Linked DNA regions of Homo sapiens. The protein of the gene in region 1 purifies or fractionates together with the protein of each later gene. This does not show direct contact. Each region holds a gene or a part of one and is shown in the gene's direction. Other genes may lie near its edges.

Region 1 (3,939 bases):
CGTGAGTCTGGGTTCCTTTGTTGTGGTTGATGTTTCTTCATATGTGTGTGGGGTCCTTGGTGAGGGTTTTTCCTGTACATTTTTCTCCATAGTTGCAAGCCCATGATGCCACTTTGAAATGCTTGCCTATGTTATTTAAAACCTAGGGGTGCTGGCCTTGGAAGCTCTCAGCTGTCCCTTGTTTACCTTGGTCCTCATGAGCCTTTATGGGTGGGAAGGCGACATCAGGGATACTTTTTCTCCATGAATAATCAGCATGGGGCATCCTCAGGAGCGCGACAGCAGATGTAAAGCCCAGGATGCCAGACTTGTCCATAGTTACTAAAGTGGTGTATTTCTTTACATTTGCCATGTTGCAGATCATTTGTTTTGATAAGCATGACATGATGGCTTAATGACATTATGTTGTTTTGGGGCAACAATGAACTGGTCTAAACTATATTTTGGGTTTTTCGTTTGTTTCTTTGGGGAATGATTTTCTAATTATAGAGGAAGATTTAGCCTGAGAATAGGAAATGTTGTAGTACTGAGTGTATGTATGTCTATGTGTACATTCTTGTGAATGTGTGTTAGTTGGGATTCAACCTGATGGAGCATCCAAGATTGTTAGAAAAATATGCAGAAGCAAAGTACATGACCATGGTATTTTTTGTAGGCTGTTCTTTAGTAAATGCTCCCACTTGTTGCCATTGGATTTCTTCCTTCTAGTTACTTCCTTTTTCATTGTGGGACACCAGATTTCCAGCCTTCTTTTTTGCGGGGAGGGAGTGTGATGGACATAGATCATTTATTCAGTAAGCATCTTGTAATATGGTAAGGAAGTATGATATAATATACCATTTATATTGGCAGAGAACAGGTTTTCTTTTCAATTAAAAGTAATTCCTCACTAGTGTCTCGTCATAAAAATTCTGAAGTAGAATTACACCTAAGGCATGTGTCATTATGGGTTGCTCCCCTGGGAGGTTCTTCTTAAAAGACCCAAGGCAAAGAATTGAGTTTTACAATATGCAGTGTTATGTGAATGAATGTAGGGCATCCATTTTGATTATAGGCATTTATTAAGCATTTCTTTTGCAACTTAGTGGTACTTTAGTCAACTATACTTTTTTAAAAATGGTGCCTTTTGGCCAGGTGTGGTGGCTCATGCCTGTAATCCCAGCACTTTGGGAGGCCAAGGTGGGCAGATCACCTGAGGTCAGGAGTTCAAGACCAGCCTGGCCAATATGGTGAAACCCCGTCTCTACAAAAATACAAAAACTAGCCGGGCATGATGGTGGGAGCTGTAGGCATTATAGGATCCCAGCTACTCGGGAGGGTGAGGCAGGAGGATCGCTTGAACCCGGGAGGCAGAGATTGCATTGAGCCGAGATCGTGCCATTGCACTCCAGCCTGGGTGACAGAGTGAGACTCTATCTCAAAAAACAAACAAACAAACAAAAATAGTGCCTTTGTATAATTTACTTAACTCCAAATGCCATTTTGTTTTTAATTTCCTTATTAAAAGTCTTCACCTAAGGCCTTAATGGTTTTTCTTTGGAAGTATTATGGTGGCTCCAGGTAATCATCCAGATACTAATTCTGGATGTGGTGGAGGAGGCAGGCAGCACCCTCGAGCAGTGCTTCTCAGACTTCAGTGTGCAGGAGGCACCCGGGCGCTTGTTGAAATATGGGTTATGATTGGTGGGGTGGGGGTGGGGCCCAAGAGTTCACATTTCTATCCGAGGCTGCTGGTCCAGGGACCACACATTGAATTGCAAGCCCTAGGAAACTGATGCTTTTGTGGGTTGATTTTAGCTGTGTCTGGGATTTTTTGTTTTGTTTTTCAGAATCAGCATCATCAGTTTATGTTTTAATATTTTGTTGCCTGCTGTTCAAAAGTCAAGTTGAGAGTCAGGGGATACAAATCCTGCTTAGTCAAAAGTTTTTGTTAAATAGGAAATTTCCTTTAGTCACCCTCTGAATCTGCTACTCTCATTAACGTGAGTTCAAATCTAGCTGGGCGTGGCTGTGCGCACCTGTAGACCAGGCTATGCGGGAGGCTGAGGCAACAGGACTACTTGAGCCCAGGAGTCTGAGGCTGCAGTGAGCCATGATCACTGCATCCAGCCTGGGTGACAGAGTGAGACCCTGTCTAAATAAATAAGTAAAATCAAGTACAATGGTAAAAGTTAAAAAACAAAGAGGTAGCTCAGGATTCCTTTTGGTAATATCCCAAAAACAATATATATAAATAGCCCCACATAACACAAATAACAAAGTTTTAGGCCACACTTTTAAAGAAGAAAGCGAAATGCTAGTTTTTCTAAGCTCTGAGTTATGTGTATAGACCCGAGGGGATTTTTGATGAGTCTCAGCAAATCTCCTTCCTCCTCCCTTACAACATTTTGCTTATCCCCGTCTCTGCTTTTTCAAACCCTCTCTGCTATTATTTGCAGTTTTTTGGCCCTAGAAAAGATCAATTGAAGATTTTCTTTCTTTCCCTCTTGTGTCTATGTTGTTATTTTAGGAATAGAAGTCCCTGAGGGACTGTTCTCAACAGTTGCTTGGGTTGAAAAATACAAAATCAATTTCTTCATCCAAGTTTGACTCATTGATTTCTGTGAGCAAGTTATTTTGCTTTAGCATTGGCACTTAGCCTTATGAAAATACAGTACATGCAAGAAGGAAAGTTAGTGAGAAATACACAAGTACTAGTGATTCTTAGGAGAAGGTTATAGTACATAAAATATTATTCCAATGATTGGTTTCTCTTTTTTTTTTTTTTTTTTTTTTTAAGACAGAGTCTTGCTCTGTTGGCCGGGCTGGAGTGCAATGGTGTGCCCTCGGCTCACTGCAACCTCTGCCTCCCAGGTTCAAGTGATTCTGCTGCCTGAGCCTCCGGAGTATCTGGGATTATGCACCACCACACCCAGCTAATTTTTTGTATTTTTAGTAGAGACAAGGTTTCACCATGTTGGCCAGGCTGGTCTCGAAATCCTGACCTCAAGTGGTACACCCACCTCAGCCTCCCAAAGTGCTAGGATTACAGGCATGAACCACCGGCGCCTGGCCGGTTTCTCTTTTATAAATGGTCAGTTTTGGGGGAGAGTTTAAGTTTTTAGTGATTATAAAATGGCCATTTGCTCAGCCTGTCTGATCCTGACTACAATGATGACAGGAAACCATGTGGCACCATGACATTGAGCTGATCTTCAGGACGTGATGACAAGTATATTGTCTGTGCTAAAATGGATTTGGTAGATTGCATAACTTGAGCCATGAGGCCTGTCGTTCTGCATACTGATGGTTTTGGTAGGTTTGGAGATGAGTATATCTGTTAGCAATGGAAAATAATTCTTTTTTTATTTTTATTTTTTATTTTTATTTTTGAGACAGAGTATCGCCCTGTCGCCCAGGCTGGAGTAAAGTGGTGCGATCTCGGCTCACTGCAAGCTCCGCCTCCTGGGATCATGCCATTCTCCTGCCTCAGCCTCCCAAGTAGCTGGGAATACAGGCGCCCACCACCACGCCCGGCTAAATTTTTGTATTTTTAGTAGAGACAGGGTTTCACTGTGTTAGCCAGGATGGTCTCGATCTCCTGACCTCGTGATCTGCCCACCTTGGCCTCCCAAAGTGCTGGGATTACAGGTGTGAGCCACTGCACCCGGCCGGAAAATAATTCTTAAGCCATGAGGTTTACTAGAGGAAAAAGTAACCATCTATAATGCTGACACTTGGACATTCGGGCCATTCTGCCTTTAAGGAACTGAAGGTGAAGGCTGGGATCGGTAGAGAGTTCTCTAGGGCTCCCAGACCATTTATTCATTCCATTTAAATATTCACCCCTGTGATCTTTATGTATATTAGTAGCTTGTTTTTTTTGTGGGAAGATTAAATAAGATGGTGTGGGTATAACTTGTGGGGTAAGGTTAGGCTGTATTTCGAGTTCACCCTTTA
Region 2 (3,939 bases), about 59 Mb from region 1:
CCGTTAGGAGTGGTTACCGTGAGAGAGCCCATTCCCCCGACACCTACTCCGGCTTGCGTTCTGGAAGGTATGTGACTCACAAAGCCCTAACTCGGGCCGGAGGGCTCAGTGGGCAGAGTTGATCTGCAGTTCTGCAGATGAGGCAGAGACACTTTTCTTCCAGTGGCCCTTATTTGGAGAAGCCTGGCAGAAGGGCGTGAGCCTAGCCAAGCAGCTATCTATTGGTGGTTCTCTGTCATCCTGCCTGGTGCAGGGGTGCGGGTGAGGGTGGAGAGTGTGGAGAACCTGTCTAGCCAACGAACAGCCCTGCCTCTCACTAGAGAGTTGCTTGGAGGAACCCAACAGCTTTGGGGCACGTTCTGAGCCTGAAAATCCAACTGTACAAATCTGTCTCAGCAGCAGCTTACATGAAAATTGTAAGTTTGGGGTGAGCTGGCAGTTTGGCAGTGCCACCAAAAAGTCAAATGGGGTCTGAGACTGCATTCACAGAAGCAGAGGGTCCAGGACAAAGGAGGGGACTGCTTGACCAGGTGTCTCCCTTGTGAAAACCTCTCCAGTTCTCAGAGGTTAGGAAAAACCTGAGTGGCTTTCCAGATGGCTTGGACCATGTGAGGACAGCATCAGCCAGTCACAGCCTCAGGGGAGCTGAGGTGCTGTCTCCAGATCCCTGGGGCAGTGTGGGCTGGCTGGGGGCTAGTTACAGTGGGGCAGCCAGCCCCCCACCCGCTTTGGAGGAGACAGGAGCAGGCAACTCGGGCTGTGCTGATGAAAAGGGTCTGCCCTGAGGGCCGCTGTTCCAGAAATGCTGGGTGGTGTCCCTACCCTTTGCGGGACTGGGAACGAGACATGGACTCTCCTTGCTCTAGGCCAGGCCATTGCTCGGCGTCTGAAACCATTCGGTGTCCAGAGATTTCTGTACACAGGGCGCCAGCCCAGGCCTGAGGAAGCAGCAGAATTCCAGGCAGAGTTTGGTAAGTGAAGCCTTGATTTCCACAGGAGCCTATCTGTGCCCAGTTGAGAGGCTGTATTTTCTCTCAATGGTGGCATTTTCAGGCAGAGGGCAGGAGCTCCAGGCATGTCCAGGGGCTGCTGTCTGGTAGATGTTTAATCTACCTGCCCCTGGACACTGGCCCACTCAGGGAGCACAGGGACTTACCCAGGTCCTCTCCGAGCCAGCAGAGCAGTCCAGGGCTCCCGTCTTTCAGAGTCCTTTGTTACCATTCCCCATTGTGGGCGGAGCAGCGGGGATGGTGGTGGGTGTGAGGAAGGGCTGGGCACTTTCACTGTCTTTTCCTTCATAAACTGGCAAGCACTACCCTAGCCTTTGTGTGCGCCCCTTAGTCCAGGCGGATCCAGCACCTGGCGGGTCCACAGCCTGGTGAGCAGATGGCAGGCTGGATCTCAAGCATTCCCCACGCCCCTGGGCACTTTGGGCCCTGAAGGTAGTTAAAGCCAGAGTGGTCCAGATCCCACTGTGTGTGATTTGACTTTGTGCACTCATGAGAGTTGTCCAGGTAGAGACTCGGCCTTCAGGAAGCATCTTGGGAGTTTCTGTTAGGGAGTCGGGAGCAAGGGGCTGGTCTCCCGCCATCTGGTTGTCCCTAGCCTGGGACTCAGTGCCTGATGGAGTCCTGCCCTCCCTCAGTGTCTACCCCTGAGCTGGCTGCCCAATCTGATTTCATCGTCGTGGCCTGCTCCTTAACACCTGCAACCGAGGGACTCTGCAACAAGGACTTCTTCCAGAAGATGAAGGAAACAGCTGTGTTCATCAACATCAGCAGGTATCCTAGGGCCACCTTACCCAGCAAGCCTGGAGAGGAGCCATCCCCACTGCTGCCATCTGGAGATTTTCTTCCCCGTGGGTTGTTGGTGAGACCCCAGGCTGAGCTTGCTGGTTTCCATAAACCAAACAACCAACTCAGAAATTCGTGGGAATACACGAGACCTCCGTACAGGGAAGAAGAGCCGTCAGAGTGGGCCTGGCCTGTCTGCTTCTCAGCAGTGGCCCCCACCCGGCGGGGCCTGGCACACAGCAGCGTGGCTTCAGGGAGTGTTCCCAGGGAGCCTCTGCAGGCCCATTATCCTCCACCACAAAGGGCTGGACTTGAGGATCTGAAGGGCCCTCTGGAGGCCGCCTCCCACACTGCTGAGCCTGGCTTTGTCTGGCTGTGGTTCAGTGATACTTTGAACCTTATGCTCCTGGGCGGACAGACCCTAAAACTCACGTGGTCGTAGCTCCTCACACTGTCCCTAGGGGTGCCTTCAGGCCACTGGGCATGTATGGAGGTCAGACCTTCCTTCTCTGCCACTCCAAGCCCTTCCTAGCTGGTGCCCCTTGAGCCTGTTTACATCAGTTTAGGGGAAGGGGGATTGGGTGAGGTCATCCTGAGGACTCGTCCACCCCAAAGGTACCTGTAATTACCAACATTTAGCTACAAAACAGGTGACCTGGGAATGGAAGAGTGAAACATGCAGGACCACAGGGCTCGCACTGCTGGCTGGCAGCAGTCACAGCTGCCGTGTACTGGGTGCCTGCATGTACCCAGGACAGCCCAGGACCGTGTATTACTCATTAGTGCACAAGTATTACTTAGTGCACAATATACAGTCTCTAGAAGATGACTTCTTGCCTTCAGTCGCCGCTCCCTTTGATGGCTGTGGTTAGGGGTGTGCTCGTTCCTCTGCCCTGGTTTAGACAGGTACCTGATAGCACACTGTGGTGCTTCTCAGTGGGGGTCTGGGGGTCAACCAGATCAGAAACACTTGGATGGGGCCTAACACAGATGCCCTTCTGGGCCCTGTTCATGCAGTAGAGCATGTAAGAAAGCTTTAATCCTCCCAACATGCCTGGGAGTTAGGTGGTATTCTCCTTATCTCACAGAGTAGATAATTTGAGACACAGATAATTCGAGGCACAGAGAATTTGAGACACTTGCCCAAGGTCACACAGCTAGAAGGAGGCAGGGCTGGAGTTCTCTGAGTATATAAGACTTACAGACATACTGTAAGTATACCTAAGACTTACTGCTTTAAAAGTCAGTGCCAAGTGAGTGGAAAAATTCATTCTGTAGGTTGTTCTGCCTCAAAGGTGGCCTGGGCGGAGGGATCTTCGGGGTACCCATGTCACCACTGTCATTCCCAGGGGCGACGTCGTAAACCAGGACGACCTGTACCAGGCCTTGGCCAGTGGTAAGATTGCAGCTGCTGGACTGGATGTGACGAGCCCAGAACCACTGCCTACAAACCACCCTCTCCTGACCCTGAAGAACTGTGGTAAGAACTGCACTTTCTGATGCAAACTCCCTGCTGCCCTGCAGGACCAGTGTTTTTGAGGGGGTCCCAAGGGGCCGGGTGTGGAGCTAGTGTGAGCAGGTGTTGAACCCAAAGGGACACACCAGGGATCGTAAATGTTTATGTTGTCAGTGACATGGGTGTATGACAGGAGCAGTCCTCTTGCGCATGCTCTGCTGGGTCTCTGTCCCTAAAGGAACAGAATGTAGGTGTGAGTGGATTTGTTTAAAAAAAAAGAGTGGGCCAGGCGTGGTGGCTCATGCCTGTAATCCCAGCACTTTGGGAGGCTGAGGTGGGTGGATCACGAGGTCAGGGGTTCGAGACCAACCTGGCCGATATGGTGAAACCCCATCTCTACTAAAAATACAAAAATTAGCCAGGTATGGTGGTGCATGCCTATAGTCCCAGCTGTTTGGGAGGCTGAGGCAGAAGAATCGCTTGAACCCAGGAGGCACAGGTTGCAGTAGGCCGAGATTGTGCCACTGCACTCCAGCCTGGGTGGCAGAGTGAGACTCCATCTCCAAAACAACAACAACAACAAAGTGGGCTGACTACATGTCTCCATGTGTTACACCACAGTGACTCGTGTAAAACCTGTTACTATAAATTGCTATTACCAGTTTAGCTGTGAAAAATTAAAAGTGTAAT
Region 3 (4,704 bases), on another chromosome or scaffold:
AAGCCAATGAATGCCAGCAGCCACCAGAAGCTGGAAGAGTCAAAGAACTGATTCTCCCCTAGAGTCTCTGGAGGGAACACAGCCCTGTCAACATCTTGATTTTGGCCCAGTGATGCTGATTTTGAATTTATGGCCTCTAGAACTGTAAGATAATAAATTTCAGTTGCTCTACAACACCAAGTTTGTGGTATTTTATTATAGCAGCCTCAGGAAACTAATATGAACCCCCATGAAATTGACTTAATAAAAGTGATAGTGCAAAGTACCTAAACAGTCACCTGAAACTCTATATACCTAGCTATGTTTCAAGAAAGATTTATGGTAGCTTATAGTAATTCACAAAACATTGATAACACCAATAATTCATACGTGAAAAGGAAAAAACAGGAAGGATATACAAAACGAAGCCAACAAGGTTTATGCAAAAAATATATATATGTGTGTGTATATATATATATACACACACATATATATAGCTCTTGCCTCGAGCCAATTAAAATTTGGCTTTAAACCAGCAGCTTACACGTAAAGGAAGTCTTCTTGTTTATATGATTCAGTGGCCATTACATAAAAACAAGCCAACTCCACAGAAACAAGTACAAAAGACAAGACGAAATTTCTCCCAGGAGTTTCGCTCCTTAGGACTTCTTTTCTGGACTGTAGCCATGTATAGGATACTCATTACCCCTTTGTAAACTTAAATGTAGTCACTAGACCCAACTTTATAAGGCTGTTTACTATATCATATAAGGCTGATAACATGTCAAAACTTAACTTGATAAAAGCAAATCCTATAGCATAGATTGATTAGACGTCAAATTCTAACTTAAAAGTAAATTCTGTAGGAGGAAAGAGGGTGTAAATACAATACCCACTAGGTAGGCAACTCACTACCGATATTAATTCCAGGGTACATTTTGAAATATTTATAAAATGCCTTGAACGATACTCAGAAAACGAGTACAGTTTCCTCACCCAAACTATCAAACATTGAGTAAGTGCTGCATACAATGCCTATGGGATGTGGCTTGCTTGAAAACAGATTTAGTATGGGGTGAAATACTCACAATGCTTTCTACTATCTGCCCAGCGAGGTCTAAGATAACTACTGAGGAGACAAACGTTCCATCCCCTACTCCCTGAAGAAGCTCCTGGGTCAATGGGGGAAAGCGCTCCTAACCCAGTAGCAAGGAAGGCTTGCAGCTAGGGATCCTAATTAACTATTAGAAGATGAGCAGATAGATGGAAGGGGAGGGGGATGGCGCCGCAAGTCGGTCAGAAAGACCACACGGCACACGCATCGCCATTGCTTCAGAGCTTTTGGAGGCAGGTCTGTAGCCATTCCCACCAAAACATACTACCGAACCGTGCATGCCCTTCCAGGAGAGCCAGACCTTTCTAACTCTCCCCAGCCCACCACCTCCCCGGGTCCTCCGCACAGGCGGCGGCGCTAGCCTTACTGCGCAGGCGCCAGGTACACCTCGGAGGCCTCAGGAGGGGGAGCCAGTAACTCCGGGTCGTTCACTAGGGCTCCGCTCTAGCTGCCAAGCTTCCGTTTCTCTACTGCTCCCCGTAATAGTTGCCTGCGCGAGCTTGGAGCCGGGTAGAGGGCGGGCCTTCCGGGACGAGGGCGCGTGGGTGAGGAAGGTCAGGTCTAGGTAAGGCTGTCGGTGACTTTGGGGGTCTGCAGCAAGGGGCGATGGCTGCGAAGTCTACGGGGGTCTCCAACCTTGTAGAGTCGCCAGGAATAGGGCGAATCCACTTCATTAGTGACCAGCTCGGGCGGTTCACGTGCATCACACAAATAACTTGGCCTTTTTCTGCCTCAGTTGGGGGATTTCTTAAACGTAGAATACCCGCGTTTCCGCTGCCGTAATTTCCTCTCAGGCGCAATTACTCTCTTCCATATTGGTTAACAGTAGAAGGCTCAGTTTCTCTGCTCATCACACGGCCTTCGGCACTGTAGCTTTGGGTGGTGGGCTGCAGATTAATTTTGTAACCACCTTAAGAAAAATACGGTAAGGTGATATTTAAGAAAAATATTTGCGAAATGCGCTCCCGAGTCAAACATCGGTTGACTTGACAATACTACAGTTTCCATCACAGTCAGGCATGATCGAGTCAGGTGGAGGGAGTTGAAGATTGTTCTTGATGAACTGAATGCAGCTAATACATTTTCAGTGCCGTTGATGCCTCTATGACTCCGTAAAATAATCGGTACCGGGTTTTTTTGTTTTTAAGCATTCTGTTGAGATTGTTTTTATGTTTAGATTGTTTCTATGACAACGTGTGTACACTGTATGTGAATTCCTTGGATCCTGATGGTTATTAGGGTGGGCACTGTGCCGTGAATTTTGCATATTAGCTTCACATCGCAGATAGTATGACTGTCCTCGTGTAGTCGATGAGAGAACCTGGCAGAGAATAAGCACCATTACAAAAACGACGTGGCCATTAAAAGGCAGAGGCGAGATTCCAACCAGCTTTTTTATTCTGCAGCTGGTGCGTTCTGCTAACCAATGGTTTTTGGGAAACTGGAGAAAGCTCTCTCCCAGAACAATTTACACACACACATACATACACATATCGGCATACAGATGTACACTTCCACTGTTTTCAAAACGCTGAAGCACATCCCGGTTAAGAACTCTTGCACTTCATCTTTACCTTTCAAAGAGAAAAGGCAAACCTAATACAAAGCCACTTATTGAAATAATCTTTTAAATGCATCAGACCTATCAAAAAGATCAAAGAAGTTTGCCCTGTTATGCCAAAGTAAAAATATGGGAATTTTCTTCTCATGTGGGCTTAATTTGTTTTGCTCAGCACATTTGAGTAATTTGTTTTTGCTTAGCATTTTCAGCTCCAGTTAACTTTTTTCATGAGAGTACAGTTTTCTTTAGTTCACATTTAAAGAAAGGTAACACTTAAAGTGACTTGTACTCCCCGAGAATGGTTTCATGTGAATCAAAATGTAATTGACATGCACGTTGTAAGAAAAGCTCCCGTGTTATTCTTCGTGAGAGACATGTGTCTGTGCACTGTGGAAGGAAACAACAAAGCAGTGTCATTGGTAATTGTTAAAACCACTTTCAGTTTCCTCCTGTTTAGCAAGTGGGCCTTTGTTTCTAGTAAGGGATTCAGGTTTGAAAAGGCTTATTCCCTTTCTCTGTCATAAAACTTTAGGACTTGGATTTTATGATATAACCATGTTCCAGCCTATTCTAGTGTGACCTTTTTACTTACAAGTTATGTATCCCAGTAATTTGCCACATTCCAAAATGGGCATGGACATAACAGCAGCATCCTGTGATGGCTTCAGTGACTACTGTCCTACTGAGTCCCTTCCTCCTCCTGGCTATCTTGTCAAGTTATCAAGGTGCTGGTCCTCTCCCTATGTTTCTCTGGCTGTCAGTCTTTGTAAATGAGGTCATCATTCCAGGGAGGCACAAAGTTTTTACTATATGGAGTATCTATCTGTCTGTCTCTCTCTCTTTTTTTTTTTTTCTTAAACATGATTAAGAACAAGGAATAAACAAATGTGTCTATGTAGAATATATGAAAACCAAACTTACAGATCTGGGCTCGTTCTTTTTTGTAAGTTACCATTTACTACTCAGTGCCACTGTTACTCATTTTCGCACTAGTCATGCAAGCTTTGTTTTCAGAAAAGGAGACTCAGAGAAGATGAGTAACTGTTCACAATAACCCAAGGATTAAGTGACAGAGCCAGTAGTCAAACCTAGGCCTCAGGAATCCCTGTTGCCTCTTCATTGACAAATAAAGGGACTTGGAATTCAGAACAGATTTTCCTGAAAACACTGTAACAAACTGATAGTTCCCATACCAGCTTACAGATAACTAACTGTGGAAATACTGTGCAATTACAGCAGAAATATATTCTGATGCCACAATGGTAATTAAGCAAACAAAGCAAAGTTGATGAAGCAACTATTGTTTTTTAATCTAATGTTTGGAAAAAGGTAACTTTAAAGGGCAAAGGAAGAGAAAAAGCATGCAAAGAAACTAGGTGACTCTGGACATTTGCAAGGCTTTTTAGAGGTTTATGGCACTGATTTGTTTATACATTAAACTGCTAAATGAATTTTTTTCACCTTGAGACTATAACCCTAGTCCTAACAACCCCACCCCCAACCAGAGTTGGCAAAGAAGTGAATCAGGAAACTGAGAATGCTGAATGGAAAAGGAAGAACAGGCTTGTAGGTGATCTGCAGATGGTGGGGAGGGAGGGGTGGACGTTGGATCTGACAGTTCTACCGTTGCCAGCCTTCAGGTGGCACTATTGACCCAAAATTGCTTGGTTGGTGTTCTGAATGGTTTTGAGGTTGACAGTGGTTTGAGATCAGCCTCTGCTTTTTTTTTTTTTTTTTTTTTGACACACAATCTTGCTCTGTCACTCAGGCTATAGAGTACAGTAGTGCAGTCATAACTTAGTGTAACCTCAAACTCCTGTGCTCAAGTGATGTCCCCCTCCTCAGCCTCCACGAGTAGCTGGAACTACAGGTGTGCACTACCATAGCAGACTAATTTTCTTATTTTCTTTTGTTTTTTGTTTTTTTTTCTGTAAAAACAAGATTTCTCCATGTTGCCTGGGCTGGTCTTGAAGTCCTGACCTCAAGCGATCCTCCCACCTCAGCCTCTCAAAGTACTGGGATTATAGGCATGAGCTACCATGCCCAGCCT
Region 4 (3,939 bases), on another chromosome or scaffold:
TCCCGATCAGGGCTCTCCTCCTGGATTGCCCGTGTCCTCACATGGCATAGAGAGAGTATGACAGCATGAGCAAGCTCTCGTTTTATCTTCTTATAAGAGCACTGATCCCATCATGAGGGCCCCATTCTCATGACCTCATCTAAACCTGATTATTTTCCAAAGGCCCCATCTCCAAATGCCATCACATTGAGAGTTAAGGCTTCAACATATGAATTTGGTGGGGAAACCCAGACATTTCAATCCATAATTCAGGCAGATATTTGGGAAGTAACACAGTTGAAGCACTGAATGCTATATTTCGTACTATCTAAAGAATCTAGGATGTAATAAATTTAAGATGCTTCATTGCCAATTAAATTAAGATACAATGCTTTTTTGATTACTTAGAATTTTTTAAAGAGCTCTTTTAGAGTTAGACATAGATTTTTGTCATATGTCACTTGCACATTCAATAAGATGGAAAACACAAGTGAAAAAACACATAAGGAATTGCTAAATTTCACATATTTAGAGTCTGCCTTCTGAATTGTTTTTGGAGTCAGAGTTGTTAATACCTGTAATTTTCCGTTAAACATCCTCTGTGCCGCCAAGAGAATTGGTGATGTAGCATTCCTTTCAAGATCCCAAAAAAGAATGCGAAGGTTTTGGTGCTGGCCTTCAGCTTTGCAATTATGCAAAGCCAGCCTACTTTGACTGCTGCTTAGGGATTCCCCATCTTCTACTTCCTTCCCAGTCCATTTGGTTCCTAGAGGGTGAAATGAATGCTCCAGTATCATTTCTGGGAATTTCTTTCAGGCTGTTGACTGTCATATGCAAATGTCATGCTGGCAGTTTTGTTATTTTCCCATGTGTAAGCAATGACAACATCATAATTGGCTTCTGTCTGATAGCAATTGTAAGAGGAATCCCAATTTCTGAAATGTTACCCAAAAAAGTGACTTTAATTGACGAAGTATGATGATGTAGAAGGATAGGCAAGAAATGCAAAAGGTAATTTAGAAAGGTTTCATGGGTAAAATGTGACCTATGTGATCTAGGGCTATAAAGGATTTCAATAAGCAGAAGCACGAGGTGGGTTGTTGAAGAAAGCACTAAATGTTTTTGGATAAAGAATATAATAATTTGAGAGTAAAGGGTAGAGGGAGGGTTATGTAGGTAAGTAGTTGTAAGATGGGGAAAGATTGGGTAGTATTTAGCATTTATCCTTAATGTTGACTTCAGTGTAGTTCTCTTTGTGTGTTTTCTAGTATAAACTGCATACATGAAAGTTAAGAATCTTGTGTTAAGTCCCATATAGGAAGGAAGTAGATAGGAAAACCAAACTGGAAAAATGTATGGAGATGTTGGTGAAATGACAGGAACGAAAGCAGCTTGTCTGAGCTTGATCTCTTCACTTCCTCAGTGGTGGTTCTGAGCGCTGGTTTGGCTGAACTCCACTTACCAGGGAAAAGGGCATAAAGTAAACAGGGTTTGTGTGGAAGAAGTGGAGTAGAACAAAGTGGAGAGGATCTCTGTTCATTTAGTGTATCTGACAGTGTGCTTGTCAAGTCATAAAACACTTGAGGATGGAAATCTGGAAGTCATTGTATACATTTTCTTCTTTCCCTAACATCTAGTCAGTTACAGTTTCTGCCAGTTCTTTTGCTTTTTCCATGTTTTTGGAGGCTGTTCCTCTTCGCTCCACATGTAGTAAATGCTCTAGTTCATGACCCATGTCTTATCTGGACTGCCATGTCAGCTTCCTAACTCATCCATTCACAGCACCAGTGACTGTAAAACAGCATTAGTGAGGATAAAACAGTGGCTGTCAAACTTTTTTGACTGTGGCCCCCAGTAAAAATACACTTTGTATTGCAACTTATGTATACTTTATATATGTATGAATAATTAAAACAAAAGGTTGATTCAAGAAAAATCTTTACATTTACCCTGTGCCATGCAATCTTATATCTTGTATTCTTTTCTGTTTCATTTTTTTAAATGTGTGCTTGCCATCCACTAAATTGATTCCGGAGTTGGAAAAACACTGACCTGACAACTAATATCACCATGTTATTCCTTAAACTCTCCGATGGCTTCTTACTATCTTCATGATAAATTTGAAGCCCTCAACATCAGCATACCAGAACCTTCATGACCTAACCCTTACCTAGTTATTCTAATCTATTATTTACCTGATCCACTCAGCTCACATTTCATTCCAATAGACAAGTAAAGTTTTTTGTAATTCCTTGTAGCTTGCCTTTCTTCATGGTGTCCACTCTGTTGAAAATCTACTACCCTCCATTTCTTCAGTGCTTTACTGCTTACTCCTACCCATTCCTGGGGCTCAAGTCAGGCCCCTATAACCAGGATGCTTTTCCTAACACTCCTTGCCCTACCACCAGGCTGGGTTAGGTAGTTCTCCATTATATAATGTGGTTCTCAATGTTGTTACCTGTTTATTATTATGTGTTTTTCTCTTATTGTCCCATAAAATAGTGAATATTCGAGAGGATAAGGAAGTCTCCCATTAAGCATCCCTAATGTTTAGTATGTAACATGTTGGCATTGGTTGGATGAATGAGAAAAAAAAAAGATTCTTCTGTTTGGAAGGAAGATACAACTGGTATCCCTTAAGTCTTTTCTTTTTTTTTTTTTTTTTTCCTTTCTCTATAGACAAGGTCTCACCATCACCCAGGCTGGAGTGCAGTGGTGCAATCACAGCTCACTACACCCTTGTACTCCTGGGCTCAAGTGATCCTGCTACCTCAGCCTCCCTAGTAGCTGGGACTGCAGGCATGCACCACCATGCTCAGCTCATTTTAAAAAAATTTTTTTTGTTGAGACAGAGTCTTGCTATGTTGCCTAGGCTGGTCTTGAACTCCTGGGCTCAAGTGATCCTCCTGCCTCAGCCTCCCAGAGTGCTAGGATTATAGGCATGATCCACTGCACCTGGCCCCTTAAGACCTTTAATTGCAGAGCAGCAGAGGACAAATGACATAAATACAGGATTTGACTTTCATTTTTAAGTATCAAATTAGTGATGGGTTGACAAACAAGTCATACAGAATGTTCATGAATCAGTTCGGCCCAGGTAACTCATAACCCAAGACCTTTGGGTCAATGAAATTCTGCCACCTAAGTAGCACCATCCAATGATGTCATACCTAAAAAGGAAATTGAGTTGTAGAATTTTAGGTTTTAGGATTCTTTCTCTAAAACTGAGGAGCTGTGCCACTCTTCAAAGCCTCACAATTACATTTCATTGGTTCTTATGCCATCTGGGTTCTGGTTAGAGGGCTGATGGAAGTACTCAAGAAATATTGGAAGTACTCAAGAAATATTAGAAGGTGGGAAGAAGGTACCTCTCTTGTTCTTGTCAGTGGCAGCACCAACAGTGGGACTTTGGGTCTCTGGGTTCCAGCTCAGCAGCAGAGGTACTAGTACTGTAGCTCCAGCAGCTTCAGCAGGAGTGCAGGCTCATGGGATCAGAGAACCACCTTTTCCGCTTTGTTCTTCCAGCCCAGCCAACAAGTTTGTAGCTATTTCCCTGCATTAAAACTCCCCTCTGTTTGAAATATCTATAGTAATTTTTCTTTTCCTGACTAATACAACCTGTTAAAGAAGCTGAAGCTCTGGTAAGTTAAATGCCCAACAATGGTCTTGAGTAGCTAGTGATTTTTGTTGCTATTGGTAAGTAAATCTAGACACTACTTTTTAGTCCCTTTTTTAAAAGAGGACTGGTTTATCTATGATGAATACATGATTGATTGATTGATTGATTGATTGATTTTTACTTTTTCTTTTTTTTTTTTTGAGACGGAGTCTTGCTCTGTCACCCAGGCTGGAGTGCAGTAACATGATCTCTGCTCACTGCAAGCTCCTCCTCCCGGGTTCACGCCATTCTCCTGCCTCAGCCTCCTGAGTAGCTGGGGCTACAGGCATCTGCCACCACGC
Region 5 (3,939 bases), on another chromosome or scaffold:
CACCCCATCTGGCCTGTGTTTTAGGTGAGCACTCACCACCTTCACTCCTCAAGTGAGGACGAGGACATTGAGGGTGCTTTCCCTAACGAGCTGTCCCTTCAGCAGGTGAGGGCGTGGCCGGCACCTGCACCCTGCCGGGCCCTTCCCGGCACCTGTGTGCGCTGCGCTTGGTCCTCCAGACGAGTCTGATGGCATCTCACTAGCAAAGGGGAGCGGGGGCTCGTCTCCGAGCACGTATGGGGCGGGGTGGGTCTGAAGGGAGAACCCCAAAGTCACTCCACCTTGATGAGAGCACTGAGGACACGGCAGATGGACTCGAAAGTCAGAGAATATGGGGCGTATCTCAGATGTGACCGCAGCGAGCGCGCAGCCTGAGTTTTGGTAGAATCGTGAGCCCTGAACAGAGTTTACTGCCCACTTGTGCTGGAGGAGAAGCTCCCGAACAACTAGAGAGATTGTGGTTCCCAAAGAGCAGCCTCCAGGCCTGATGCCTCCTCCATGACCGGTGTCTGTCCGTCCCTCCCTCCCTCCCTCCCTCCCAGGCCTTCTCTGACTACCAGATCCAGCAGATGACAGCCAACTTCGTGGATCAGTTTGGCTTCAATGATGAGGAGTTTGCCGACCAGGACGACAACATCAAGTGAGTCTACTTGGAGCGCACTCTGCACGAGGCGCGGCTCTCCCTGCTGCTGAGCTCCCGTGGAGGCAGCTCCCTGAGGTCTTGCCGGGAGTGCCGTCTGATGTCCCCGGGAGACAGCAGGTGTTCCCAGTTGTGTGAGGGTGCTGAGGCCCCCGATGAGCACCGGGGGAGGAGCACTGAGGCCCCAGATGAGCAGTGGGCCTGGAGGAACGCTGAAGCCATCCCCCTTGCTCTTGCAGTGCCCCGTTTGACAGGATCGCAGAGATCAACTTCAACATCGACGCTGACGAGGACAGTGTGAGCAAGCCGGGCTGTGTGGGGTGCCGCCACCCTTTTCCCAGGCAGCTCAGGCCATGCCCATGGCTCGGTCTGTCATGGGCCTGTGCGGTGGGGCTGGGAGAGGCCCCTCTGTGGAGCTCGGAACAGTCGCTTTCCTTGCCCCTCCCCGTCCTCCCCTCCAGCCCGGGGCTCCCACATCCCGAACTAAGCCCCTCTGGGAGCTCTATGGGGAGAGCGGCTCCTGTCTCCCCCAGACCCTCTGGAAACTCACCTTGGCGTTTTACTCTGCAGCCCAGCGCAGCTCTGTTTGAGGCCTGCTGCAGTGACCGCATCCAGCCCTTTGATGATGATGAGGACGAGGACATCTGGGAGGACAGTGACACTCGCTGTGCTGCCCGGGTGATGGCCAGACCCAGGTGCGGGGCCTGCCCATCCCCACAAAGCCTCTGCCGAGGAGGTTCAGCCCCCAGAACACCTGTCAGACGCCCTGTGGTTCGTTAGCTGGCTTGCAGAGCAGCCACACCTGTCCTGCCAGCTCTGGGGCCCAATGCAGCGGGTGACCCTAAGGAGCCCAGAGCTGAGGCCTGGAGCGTCTCGTGCTCCTCTCTCGAGACGATCTGTGCTCACCCTCAGCCCCGAGCCTGGGGCCGCCACTGACCCTCCATGTTAGGCGTCCGTCCTGGGCCACCAGACATCTGACTCTGAATCTCCCCCAGGTTTGGAGCCCCCCATGCTTCAGAGAGTTGCTCAAAGAATGGCCCAGAGCGTGGAGGCCAGGATGGGAAGGCGAGCTTGGAAGCACACAGAGATGCACCTGGGGCAGGTGCCCCACCGGCCCCCGGGAAGAAGGAAGCGCCCCCTGTGGAGGGTGACTCAGAAGGTGGTGCTGGGCGCCAGGGGCTGGGAGTGTGGGTATCGGGGACAGGACATGGTACCCCGGCCTGGGTGTTGTGGAGGCTTCATTTGGAGCTGAGGCATTTGGGGCTCACTGTGGCCCGGAGCCTGAATCCCCAGCTATTTCCCAGCCGTCCTGAGTAGGGGTCTGTGCTGCGCTGTGCCCAGCGCAAGGTGGCCTCCTGCCCCTGCCTTGCAGTTGTGGTCACTCAGCCACGTTGCCAAGGCTGGTGGGTGGTGTCCACCTAGTCTCCATCGTCCGTCCAGCCCCCACACAGTCAGGCACAGGCCTGACGCCCTCCCCAGCACAGCAGCACAGGCCGGCCGCCACCTTCATGGCCGACATCTATGGCAGGAGCCAGTCCACCTCACAGGCCGCATGGCTGATGAGACCCCTCTCCTTACCCTGCCCTGGGGGCAGCACTGAGGCACTCAGGACTTTGGTGGCGGGGGCAGAGATCTCTGTTAGGAGGGGCTGAGCTCTTCGCTGACAGAGCAAGGGTGACACCCTGGGGAAGCAGGAACATCCCAGATAGGAGGAAGACACCCCATCCTCGAGGCCAGGAAGGGGCCAGTGGTGCTCGGTGAGCTGCCGGCTCTGTGGGTTGCGGTCCTGGGTAGGACAGGGCAGTGGCATCACCTCCACACTGTCAGTGTCAGTCCTGCTGGAGGCCTGGGGGCCCTCAGGCACCTGACTGAGCCCCAGGTCACACGCCCCATGGGTGTCGGCAGCTTGTCAGGACCCTCGAGCTGTCCCCTGTTGCTCCTTGAGGGGCTGACGGGCACTGCCTGGGCCTCCCTCCTGGAGCAGCCCCATCTTCCTGTCAACCTCTGAGGGGCTCCCGGGGCAGGGGCGCTGCCTCCCCTTTGCCTGCAGCACCCCAGGCCTGCCCACGCCTGACCACTGTGTCTCTCCCCCAGCAGGCGCCATGTGGACGGCAGTGTTTGATGAGCCAGCGAACTCAACGCCCACAGCCCCAGGAGTGGTGAGGGACGTGGGTTCCAGTGTGTGGGCAGCTGGCACCTCAGCTCCAGAGGAGAAAGGCTGGGCCAAGTTCACTGACTTCCAACCTTTCTGCTGGTAACAAATGCGCTGGCAGGAGGGGGCTGTGCCAGGAAGTGCCTGTCAGGGCCAGGAGGCACCTGTCCCCCAGGACTGATCCTGTCCTCGTCCTTGTATGCAGCTCCGAGTCAGGGCCCAGGTGCAGCTCTCCGGTGGACACAGAATGCAGCCATGCTGAGGGCAGCCGGAGCCAAGGCCCTGAGAAAGCCTGTGAGTAGGAGCAGTGCAGGCGGCACCCAGCCTTGCCCAGTTTAAGGCCTGAGGCCAGCTGGCCCCCCTCCTTGGGGGCAGTGGGAGGAGGTGGCCGGGGCCTCGCATGCTGCTACGTCTCTGGTGACATTGGGGTTTGATACAGCAATGGGACTGGAGCAGCCACGTGTAGATGGGGAGGCCCCCAGAGGGGAGGCAGCAAGGCCATTGGGCTGGCTCTGAGCCTGGTCTGAGTAGGTGGCACAGCTCAGGTCTGCACCCTGGATTCCGGACAGCAGCACTGGGACCCCAGCATTGAGATGTGTGTGGGTGGGTTGTTGGCAGGAAGCTGTTCTGTGGCCTGATCAGAGCCCCTGGCCCCCAGCCCCCTAGTCAGGCTCAGAAGCTCCCCCAGATAAGGCTGAGAGCTCCAGGTGAGTGACAGCTGGCTCCCAACACTGGTGTCCCCGGTTTTGGGGTCCTTTGGGCTTAAAGGAGCTGTGGCAGGACCACACGAGGCGGAGTGGGCCCCTCCCTGAGCCTCTGCGTCCTCCTGTGAGACCAGGGCATGTGTCCCTGTATCATGGGGGAGGCAACAGGGTTGTTTGTGTGGAGACCCCATGGCAGGTGCGTGAGCCTGTCTGCCTCATCATGCGGCTCCCACACAGGCACATGTGTGCAGGCAACAGGCTGCATGTGAGAGGGCCACATGTATGGGGACCCTATGGCTGGAGTGGCCGCACCCTGTGACCCCTCCTGCCTCACTGGACAGCACAGGCCTCCTACTTTGCAGTCAGCCCGGCTTCTCCATGTGCCTGGAACGTGTGTGTCACCAGGAAGGCCCCCCTGCTGGCCTCTGACAGTAGCTCCTCTG
Region 6 (3,939 bases), on another chromosome or scaffold:
GTGTATTAGTCAGAAGTTATAATTTTTAAAAGTAATTATTTTCAGTACTGTAACTCAAGATATTTAAGTTGTTGATTAATAGATATTCTTAGTTCTGTTTTAATGAACAGATAACTATTATAACCATCATTGGTAAAGAACATGGTAATTTCTTCTATCTAAAATCCATATTATTAAGTATTTAGATTGGGGGGAGATTTATTCTCTAAATTATAAATTCTCTGTAAGTTTTCTTTATGAAATTCTATACTTTCTTATAGAATTAATCCTATGTCCCTACTCCCTCCTCTTCATTCCCCTGTCAAACACTTGAGTTTTCTTTCACAGCTTTCTATTCTTGTTCCTATCTTAATGAAAAGAGCAAACTTCAAAGTCAAACAAAACAATCAAAATTTATCACTTTCTAGCTGTGTTACTGTGAGCAATTTATTTAGCCTTTCTGAGCTTTAGGTTCCTCATTTTTTAAAATAGAAATATTTATCTCCCAGGCTTAACAGACAAGGAAGTTTTATAAATAATGAATACTTAAACTACTACCTTAGTTGACTCTCAATAAATGTAGCTCTCCTTTATTCCTTTCTGTAGAACCCTACCTGTTACTGTGGAGTTTCTGTCTTAATAATCTCAAGTTCCAATCATGACATCTTAGTTAATTAGGTTTAAATTTTAGATATTTATTCATAATGTATTATCTTTCATGTAAATCAAGTAGTGTAATATAAAGTCTTACATTAAAGTAATGTAAAGTATTACATTGCTTCAGAAACTTTAAAACACTATATAATGTAAAATAATATTATTTCTTAAGTAACTTATTTTATTAGCAATGTACTAGGTATTTCCCTTATCTAACTTAAATTTTAAAGTGAATTGATAAAGTCAAAAGCAAATGGACACACAGAAAAAGATTTGGAGGCAAATCATCTCACATCATTGGTAAATATAGATTGCTGTAAATTTCTAGGTATGTTTTAAACCCTCCTTAGGTGAGCAGTGACTTTTTCACAATTGAAATTTATCTTTTGAAATTATTTCTGTTGAGGATTTAATAATCAATTGTGTGTGTATACATATATATGTAAAATTAGATTCTATTTTTATATAGATTTAGGGCTATATAAATCTATATACAAAGGGCTATATTAGTACAACTGTTATTCATATTTTATTCTTGGTAGGTTGTTTTTAATTTTTCAATAACTGTCCATTTTGTCTACATACTTAAAGCTTAGTATTACAAAATTGAGTTCATCAGCTTTTTCTCCAAACCTATTATTTGTCCTTCACTGGTCTCTTTTTCAGTCCTGTTGGCAGAGCCACAAGTTAGTGTCAGCTTTGACTCGTCCTTCTCTCTTTACTTCTCCACATTCACCAAACACTGTATAATCTAGCTCTTATTAAAAATTCCCAAGTCCATCACGTTATTTTTGCTGCTGCTGCTGCTGCTGCAACTGCTGCCACCACCATGGCTGTTCAGGCTCATAGTGATTTTCATCTAGAGTGCATCACAGCCTCTTTAAAAATCGTTTTTCCTTTAGTCTTGACTTGCTCCAGTTCTTCTTTAGATGTTAGAATATTCCTTCAAAATGCAAATCTGGTCATGTTAGAGACTTGGTAAGTTCATTCACTTAGCAGTTTTTTGTTCTGTAAGATGAATACACAATTGTCTAATAAGTTCATATCTGTATATCATGATGTCATCTGCCTTTAGACAGTGAAATTATGGCTTCCTTTAAAGAACTTAAAATGAGTTTAAAATAGCTATAGCTAGTATATTTTTAGGTTGGTTTAAATCTTATTATTTATTTTACAGTGCTGAAGTTTTTTGACCATAATTTAGCCAAAAAGTTGGATCTTAATTGGTTCAAGCTATTTATTGATGGTCTGAGATTTAGTTATTTTAGTTTGATAAAATGTACAGTAATGTAGTTTAAAGACAATGACTGGATATTCTAATTGGATGTAAATATTCAGTCACATAATTAAGGCTAGTGTATATTCAAGTGTATAGGTGAAAATATATAAATTATTTATATGGAAGAGATTTTGTAAAAAGAAACCTTACTTGTTATGTCTCCTGCAACTTTTTTTCCCAATCACTTGGGAGTTCAGATGATGTTAACTGGGTACTTTTATGGTTATGTAAGACTGTCTGCTTCTTAATTAGTATCTATTACAATGGAGTTGAGAGAGGCACCAAGCTACTAAAGGAATAAGTAGTTCAATTTGTAGGTAGGAAAATGAAATTTTTCTGCCATCAGTGTGTTTTTGCAGAAAGAAAAGAAAACTGATTTACATACTAATAGGTATTAATTGATCTGCTTATTAGTATTAATTTATTAATTGATTTATTTATTATATGTTGACATTCTCTTTGAAGATATGGTACTTCTATAATCCTTTTCAACTGATTACATCTACTTTTTTATCTCTTCTTTAGGTTTTCGAAAAATAAGTTTAGATGACCTTCGGAAGGCATATATCGTCAAGGATGTTCAGCAGTACATTCTTCATCGTTTAGATCAAGAAGAAGCTTTGCGACAACACCTCACAAAAGAAACTGCAGAGATGTTAAATCAACTGCACATTAAAAGCAGTGGATGCTTTCTTTACCTAGAACGAGTTTTAGATGGAGTTGTAGAAAATTTTATTATGTTAAGAGAAATTCGTGACATCCCAGGAACTCTAAATGGTTTATATCTCTGGCTGTGCCAAAGACTTTTTGTAAGAAAACAATTTGCAAAGGTTCAGCCTATTTTGAATGTGATTCTTGCAGCCTGCCGACCTTTGACCATAACGGAATTATATCACGCAGTATGGACCAAAAACATGTCGTTAACTTTGGAAGATTTTCAACGCAAGTTAGATATCCTCTCCAAACTTCTTGTTGATGGACTAGGAAATACAAAAATACTGTTTCATTATAGTTTTGCCGAGTGGCTTCTGGATGTGAAACACTGTACTCAGAAGTATTTATGTAATGCAGCAGAAGGACACAGAATGTTGGCTATGAGTTATACCTGTCAAGCCAAGAATTTAACACCATTGGAAGCACAAGAATTTGCATTGCACTTAATTAACTCAAACTTACAATTAGAGACAGCGGAGTTAGCTCTGTGGATGATATGGAATGGTACACCTGTCAGAGATTCCCTTTCTACTTTGATACCCAAGGAACAAGAAGTGCTACAGCTGTTGGTTAAAGCTGGGGCTCATGTCAACAGTGAAGACGATCGCACATCATGCATAGTTCGACAAGCCTTAGAAAGAGAGGATTCCATTCGGACATTATTAGATAATGGAGCTTCAGTAAATCAGTGTGATTCAAATGGGAGAACATTATTGGCTAATGCTGCATATAGTGGCAGTCTTGATGTAGTCAATTTACTTGTCTCTAGGGGAGCAGATTTAGAGATAGAAGATGCTCATGGACATACACCACTCACTCTAGCGGCTAGACAGGGACATACCAAGGTGGTTAATTGTTTGATTGGGTGTGGAGCAAATATTAATCATACTGATCAAGATGGTTGGACAGCATTAAGATCTGCTGCTTGGGGTGGCCATACTGAGGTAGTTTCTGCACTACTTTATGCTGGCGTAAAAGTGGATTGTGCAGATGCTGATAGCCGAACAGCTTTGAGAGCAGCAGCATGGGGAGGACACGAGGATATTGTACTGAATTTGCTACAACATGGCGCTGAAGTGAACAAAGCTGATAATGAAGGTAGAACTGCTTTGATAGCAGCAGCATACATGGGACATAGAGAGATTGTGGAACACCTACTGGACCATGGAGCAGAAGTAAATCATGAGGATGTTGATGGCAGGACTGCACTCTCTGTAGCTGCACTTTGTGTGCCTGCAAGTAAAGGGCACGCATCAGTTGTTAGCCTTTTAATTGATCGAGGTGCTGAAGTAGATCATTGTGATAAAGAT
Region 7 (3,939 bases), on another chromosome or scaffold:
CTGGGCTTGTTCTGCCCACTTGACCCAGCAGGCTGTGCTTGGTTTTCACTACTGGCCCAGATCCCACGGCTGCCAACGGCAAGCCAGGTGCAGAGCAGCAAGGGGTGCATGAGTGAGCGAGCGCGGGGTACAGTGTGCACAGCCAGGCATGGTGGCTGTGGCGGGGCAGGCAGGTCCAGGTGCCAGTATGGGCGCCGGCTCCTTGCTGTGGCTGGAACAGGTGTACCACAAGTGGCTCCCACTACAAGCACTGTGGAACATGGTGGCACCCAGAAACTTGGAGATGCCGGCAACTGCAGAGCCACAAAGAGGATGTCACAGCCCTGGCTTGGGGAGCTCCTAAGTCCAGGCTCCCTGAAGGGCTGCAGCTCTTCTCTCCTCTCTTGTCTCCTCATCGTCACCCACAACATGGCGAGCAGCAGGGTGTATTTGACACAGTTTGTGTTACAGCTTGTTTGGTCCTGCCATTTGGCAGGTCCAGAGTTCCTGTACTGTGTCCAGGAAGAATGAGCTACATGGACAACTGGAGGGTGAACAAGGTGCTTTATTGAGCAAAAGAGTAGCTCTCAGGAGACCTGTCATGGGTAGCTGCTTTCTGCAGGCAGTTCCTCCCGACAACTGCAGCTCTCAGCAGAGAAGAGACCCGGAGTGGGTACCTCCTCTCTGCAGGCAGGTCATTTTGTCGAGTGTGCAGTCCTCAGTGGAGAGGAGACCCAAGTGGGTAGCTCTTACCTGCAGGCAGGTCGTCCTATCATCTGCCAGAGTCTGGCTGAGTTTGCGGTTTTTATGGGCTTCAGAGGGGAGGAAGTGTGTGCTGATTGGCCCATGGGTGGCCATGGGTGGGCCTGGAAAATTCACTGTAAGTTTTCACTCCAGTCAGTGGAACTGGCAGCCTGGACCCTAGGCTTCAGGCTATCCCTGGCTTGAAGGTGGGGTTTCAGCAGGGACCTGTCCCTTTCCTCCCAGGAGCCTGTCTCCCTCCCACTGCTGTTCATGGTGCCCAGACTGTTTTAGCTGAGGGACGCCTGCAGTACCACGTTGAGTCACCCTCAGCCCTGCCCTTGGCCTCCCTCCCACGTTCATCAGCGCCCAAAGTCCAGAGGGAGCTGAGGTGGCAGGGGGCTGGTGTGTCAGCATCTCCTCAAGCACACACACACCTGGCCAGGTCATGTCAGTGCCCGGGCTTGGCCACAGCTTTTCTCCAAAGTCAGAGTGGGCACTGGGAATGGGGAGAGGCCAAGCAGTAGGAGCAGGCACTTCTGAGCATGTGGGGGAAGAGAGGCATCCTGGGCCCCCGAGAGCATAGGAATGCCCTAGTCCACAGCTGGGTGGCTGCAATTGCACCCAGGAGCATGGGGCTCCCTCCGCACCAACTCGGAAGGGAGAAGGGCTCCTGCCTGTTCCTGGGTCCCGCTGGCTCTGCAGAGCAAGCAGGTCCGGCTGTGCCTTCCCAACTGCAGCCAGCATCTTTGCAGCAGCTGCTCCAGATGGGCTGCAGCTGCCATCACTGGGACTTGGTGCCCTGTGTCCCAGCTGTTCCAGTACCAGTTGTGGCTAAAAGGGGCCAAGGTACAGTTCAGACCATTGCCTCAGAGGGTGCAAGCCTTGGTGGCTTACACATGGTGTTGGGCCTACCAGTGCACAAAAGTCAAGAGTTGAGGTTTGGAAACCTCTGCCTAGATTTCAGAGGATGTACAGAAACACCTGGATATCCAGGCAGAAGTCTGCTGCAGGGGCGAAGCTCTCATGGAGAACCTCTGCTAGGGCAGTGCAAAGGGGAAATGTGAGATATAAGCCGCCACACAGAGTCCCCACTGGGGCACTCCCTAGGGGAGCTCTGAGAAGAGGACCATGGTCCTCCAGACCCCAGAATGGTAGATCCACCAACAGCTTTCATCATGCGCCTGGGAAACCTGCAGATACTCAATGCCAGCCATGAAAGCAGGTGGTGTGTGGGCTGTACCCTGCAAAGCCACAGGGGTGGAACTGCCCAAGGCCATGGCAGTCCACCCTTTGGATCAGCGTACCCTGAATGAGAGACATTGAGTCAAAGGAGATCTCACTTGTGAGCTTTATGACTTAATAACTGTCCTTTTGGGTTTCAGACTTTCATGGGACCTGTAGCCCCTTTGTTTTGGCCAATTTTTCCCATTTGGAATGGGAGCATTTGTCCAATGCCTGTACACCCATTGTATCCTGGAAGTAACTAACTTGCTTTTGATTCTCCAGGCCCCTAGGCAGAAGGGACTTGCTTTGTCTCAGATGAGACTTTGGACTTGGACTTTTGAGCTAATGCTGAAATGAGTTAAGACTTTGGGGGACTGTTTGGAAGCATGATTGGTTTTGAAATGTGAGGACATGAGATTTGGGAGGGGCCAGGGCCACAATGATATGGTTAGGTTCAAATCTTATCTTGAATTGTAATCCCAAGGTGTTGAGGGAGAGACCTGGTGGGAGGCCATTGAATCACAGGGGTAGATTTTCCCCATGCTGTTCTTGTGATAGCGAATTCTCATAAGATCTGATGGTTTTGTAAGGCAGTATCCCTGCTCTTGCTCTCTCTCACCTGCCACCACGTAACACAGATCTGCTTCCCCTTCTGCCATGATTGTAAGTTTCTTGAGGACTCCCTAGCCATGTGGAACTGTGAGTCACTTAAATCTCTTTTCTTTATAAATTACCCAGCCTCAGGTAATTTTCTTTATAGCAGTGTGAAAATGGACTAATACATACTCATAAAGTGCTTTTAAGATAATTGCTTTGATATACAGCATGAGAACCTCAGGCATTAATGAAGAATGGTCGCATTTAATGTAGAAAATTGCTGATAATTCAGCTTGTAAATAGATACCAACTAGGTTTCCATGAACATACTGACTCAGCTAGTGTTTAATAGCTCCTGTTATTTGTCAGTCACAGTGTTAATTCACTAAATAAGAATATAGTCTTACTCTTAGTGCTGTATTCAAAATTTTTATTGACATGATCTACTTTTAGGATTTCACCGAAGTCCTAAATCAGTGCACTGGTGATGGAGATTCGAATGATGGCTTTATAATTTTTGATAAAATATCATGGTCCCCTAATATTTTACATAATTTTTCTCTTCATTTTTGCCTTTTACTATCTCATGTTCCTTCAGTTCTGGGTTATGGGTGTTGAGGGCAGTTGATGGTATCAAATTTTATTGGGGAAAAGAAATTTAAAATTTAGAAAATCATTTTCTTAATTCTTTTTGGAAAAATAAACACATGTACTTATTCAGGAGGTATAAGAATGTTAATATATTTACCCACTAAGAGCCTTTAACTTGGACTATTTTACTCTCAAGGTTACCATTAAGAATATCGAAAGGGAGCTCATTTGCCCAGCATGCAAGGAGCTGTTTACCCACCCATTGATTCTCCCTTGCCAACATAGTATCTGTCATAAATGTGTAAAAGAACTCCTGCTGACTCTCGATGATTCATTCAACGATGTGGGATCAGACAACTCCAATCAAAGCAGTCCTCGACTTCGGCTCCCCTCCCCTAGTATGGATAAAATTGACCGAATTAACAGACCAGGTATGTGTTAGAACTGTGGGCTGGGATGGTAGTGGGGGTAAGCTTATAGATATATATTCAGTGGTAACTGGAAGGAAAATTATTTTTGTCATCTTGAGAGTTAATTTTTCCAGGTGAATAAATTAAAACTGTAGTTATAAAGGGGCCTCCCCCACTGTTAAAATGTCAAAATGAACTCTCGTCTTTTGATACATACTTGAAGTAGATATTGGATATTGAACATGAACTTTGTGTTAAACTCCTTATTAACTGTGTTTGTAAGTCTGGGCACAGTGGCTCACACCTGTAATCCCAGCACTTTGGGAGGCCATGTCGGGTGGATCACCTGAGGTCATGAGTTCAAGACCAGCCTGACCAACATGGAGAAACTCCA

What was found.
Region 2: the proteins of CDC14B (region 1) and GRHPR purify together in Homo sapiens (affinity purification with mass spectrometry; one large-scale study listed by BioGRID and IntAct). This does not show direct contact.
Region 3: the proteins of CDC14B (region 1) and MRPS33 purify together in Homo sapiens (affinity purification with mass spectrometry, with the first as the bait; one large-scale study listed by BioGRID). This does not show direct contact.
Region 4: the proteins of CDC14B (region 1) and HMGCS1 purify together in Homo sapiens (affinity purification with mass spectrometry; one large-scale study listed by BioGRID and IntAct). This does not show direct contact.
Region 5: the proteins of CDC14B (region 1) and PPP6R2 purify together in Homo sapiens (affinity purification with mass spectrometry; one large-scale study listed by BioGRID and IntAct). This does not show direct contact.
Region 6: the proteins of CDC14B (region 1) and ANKRD50 purify together in Homo sapiens (affinity purification with mass spectrometry; one large-scale study listed by BioGRID and IntAct). This does not show direct contact.
Region 7: the proteins of CDC14B (region 1) and TRIM36 purify together in Homo sapiens (affinity purification with mass spectrometry; one large-scale study listed by BioGRID and IntAct). This does not show direct contact.

The regions. Positions count from the first base shown.
Region 1 is NC_000009.12:96,518,568-96,522,506, reverse strand, and holds part of CDC14B (dual specificity protein phosphatase CDC14B), read left to right. Parts: coding exon 1-1; intron 2-3,939.
Region 2 is NC_000009.12:37,428,866-37,432,804, forward strand, and holds part of GRHPR (glyoxylate reductase/hydroxypyruvate reductase), read left to right. Parts: coding exon of another isoform or gene 1-67; intron 68-866; coding exon 867-971; intron 972-1,645; coding exon 1,646-1,781; intron 1,782-3,142; coding exon 3,143-3,273; intron 3,274-3,939. UniProt on the Homo sapiens protein: Enzyme with hydroxy-pyruvate reductase, glyoxylate reductase and D-glycerate dehydrogenase enzymatic activities. Reduces hydroxypyruvate to D-glycerate, glyoxylate to glycolate, oxidizes D-glycerate to hydroxypyruvate.
Region 3 is NC_000007.14:141,011,865-141,016,568, reverse strand, and holds the start of MRPS33 (small ribosomal subunit protein mS33), read left to right. Parts: upstream 1-1,616; 5' UTR 1,617-1,658; intron 1,659-1,889; exon of another isoform or gene 1,890-2,018; intron 2,019-4,704.
Region 4 is NC_000005.10:43,299,509-43,303,447, reverse strand, and holds part of HMGCS1 (hydroxymethylglutaryl-CoA synthase, cytoplasmic), read left to right. Parts: intron 1-3,939. UniProt on the Homo sapiens protein: Catalyzes the condensation of acetyl-CoA with acetoacetyl-CoA to form HMG-CoA, which is converted by HMG-CoA reductase (HMGCR) into mevalonate, a precursor for cholesterol synthesis.
Region 5 is NC_000022.11:50,436,964-50,440,902, forward strand, and holds part of PPP6R2 (serine/threonine-protein phosphatase 6 regulatory subunit 2), read left to right. Parts: intron 1-24; coding exon 25-105; intron 106-542; coding exon 543-640; intron 641-879; coding exon 880-937; intron 938-1,210; coding exon 1,211-1,335; intron 1,336-1,635; coding exon 1,636-1,799; intron 1,800-2,734; coding exon of another isoform or gene 2,735-2,737; coding exon 2,738-2,894; intron 2,895-2,997; coding exon 2,998-3,086; intron 3,087-3,837; coding exon of another isoform or gene 3,838-3,858; coding exon 3,859-3,939. UniProt on the Homo sapiens protein: Regulatory subunit of protein phosphatase 6 (PP6). May function as a scaffolding PP6 subunit. Involved in the PP6-mediated dephosphorylation of NFKBIE opposing its degradation in response to TNF-alpha.
Region 6 is NC_000004.12:124,671,036-124,674,974, reverse strand, and holds part of ANKRD50 (ankyrin repeat domain-containing protein 50), read left to right. Parts: intron 1-2,440; coding exon 2,441-3,939.
Region 7 is NC_000005.10:115,163,145-115,167,083, reverse strand, and holds part of TRIM36 (E3 ubiquitin-protein ligase TRIM36), read left to right. Parts: intron 1-3,331; coding exon 3,332-3,566; intron 3,567-3,939. UniProt on the Homo sapiens protein: E3 ubiquitin-protein ligase which mediates ubiquitination and subsequent proteasomal degradation of target proteins. Involved in chromosome segregation and cell cycle regulation. May play a role in the acrosome reaction and fertilization.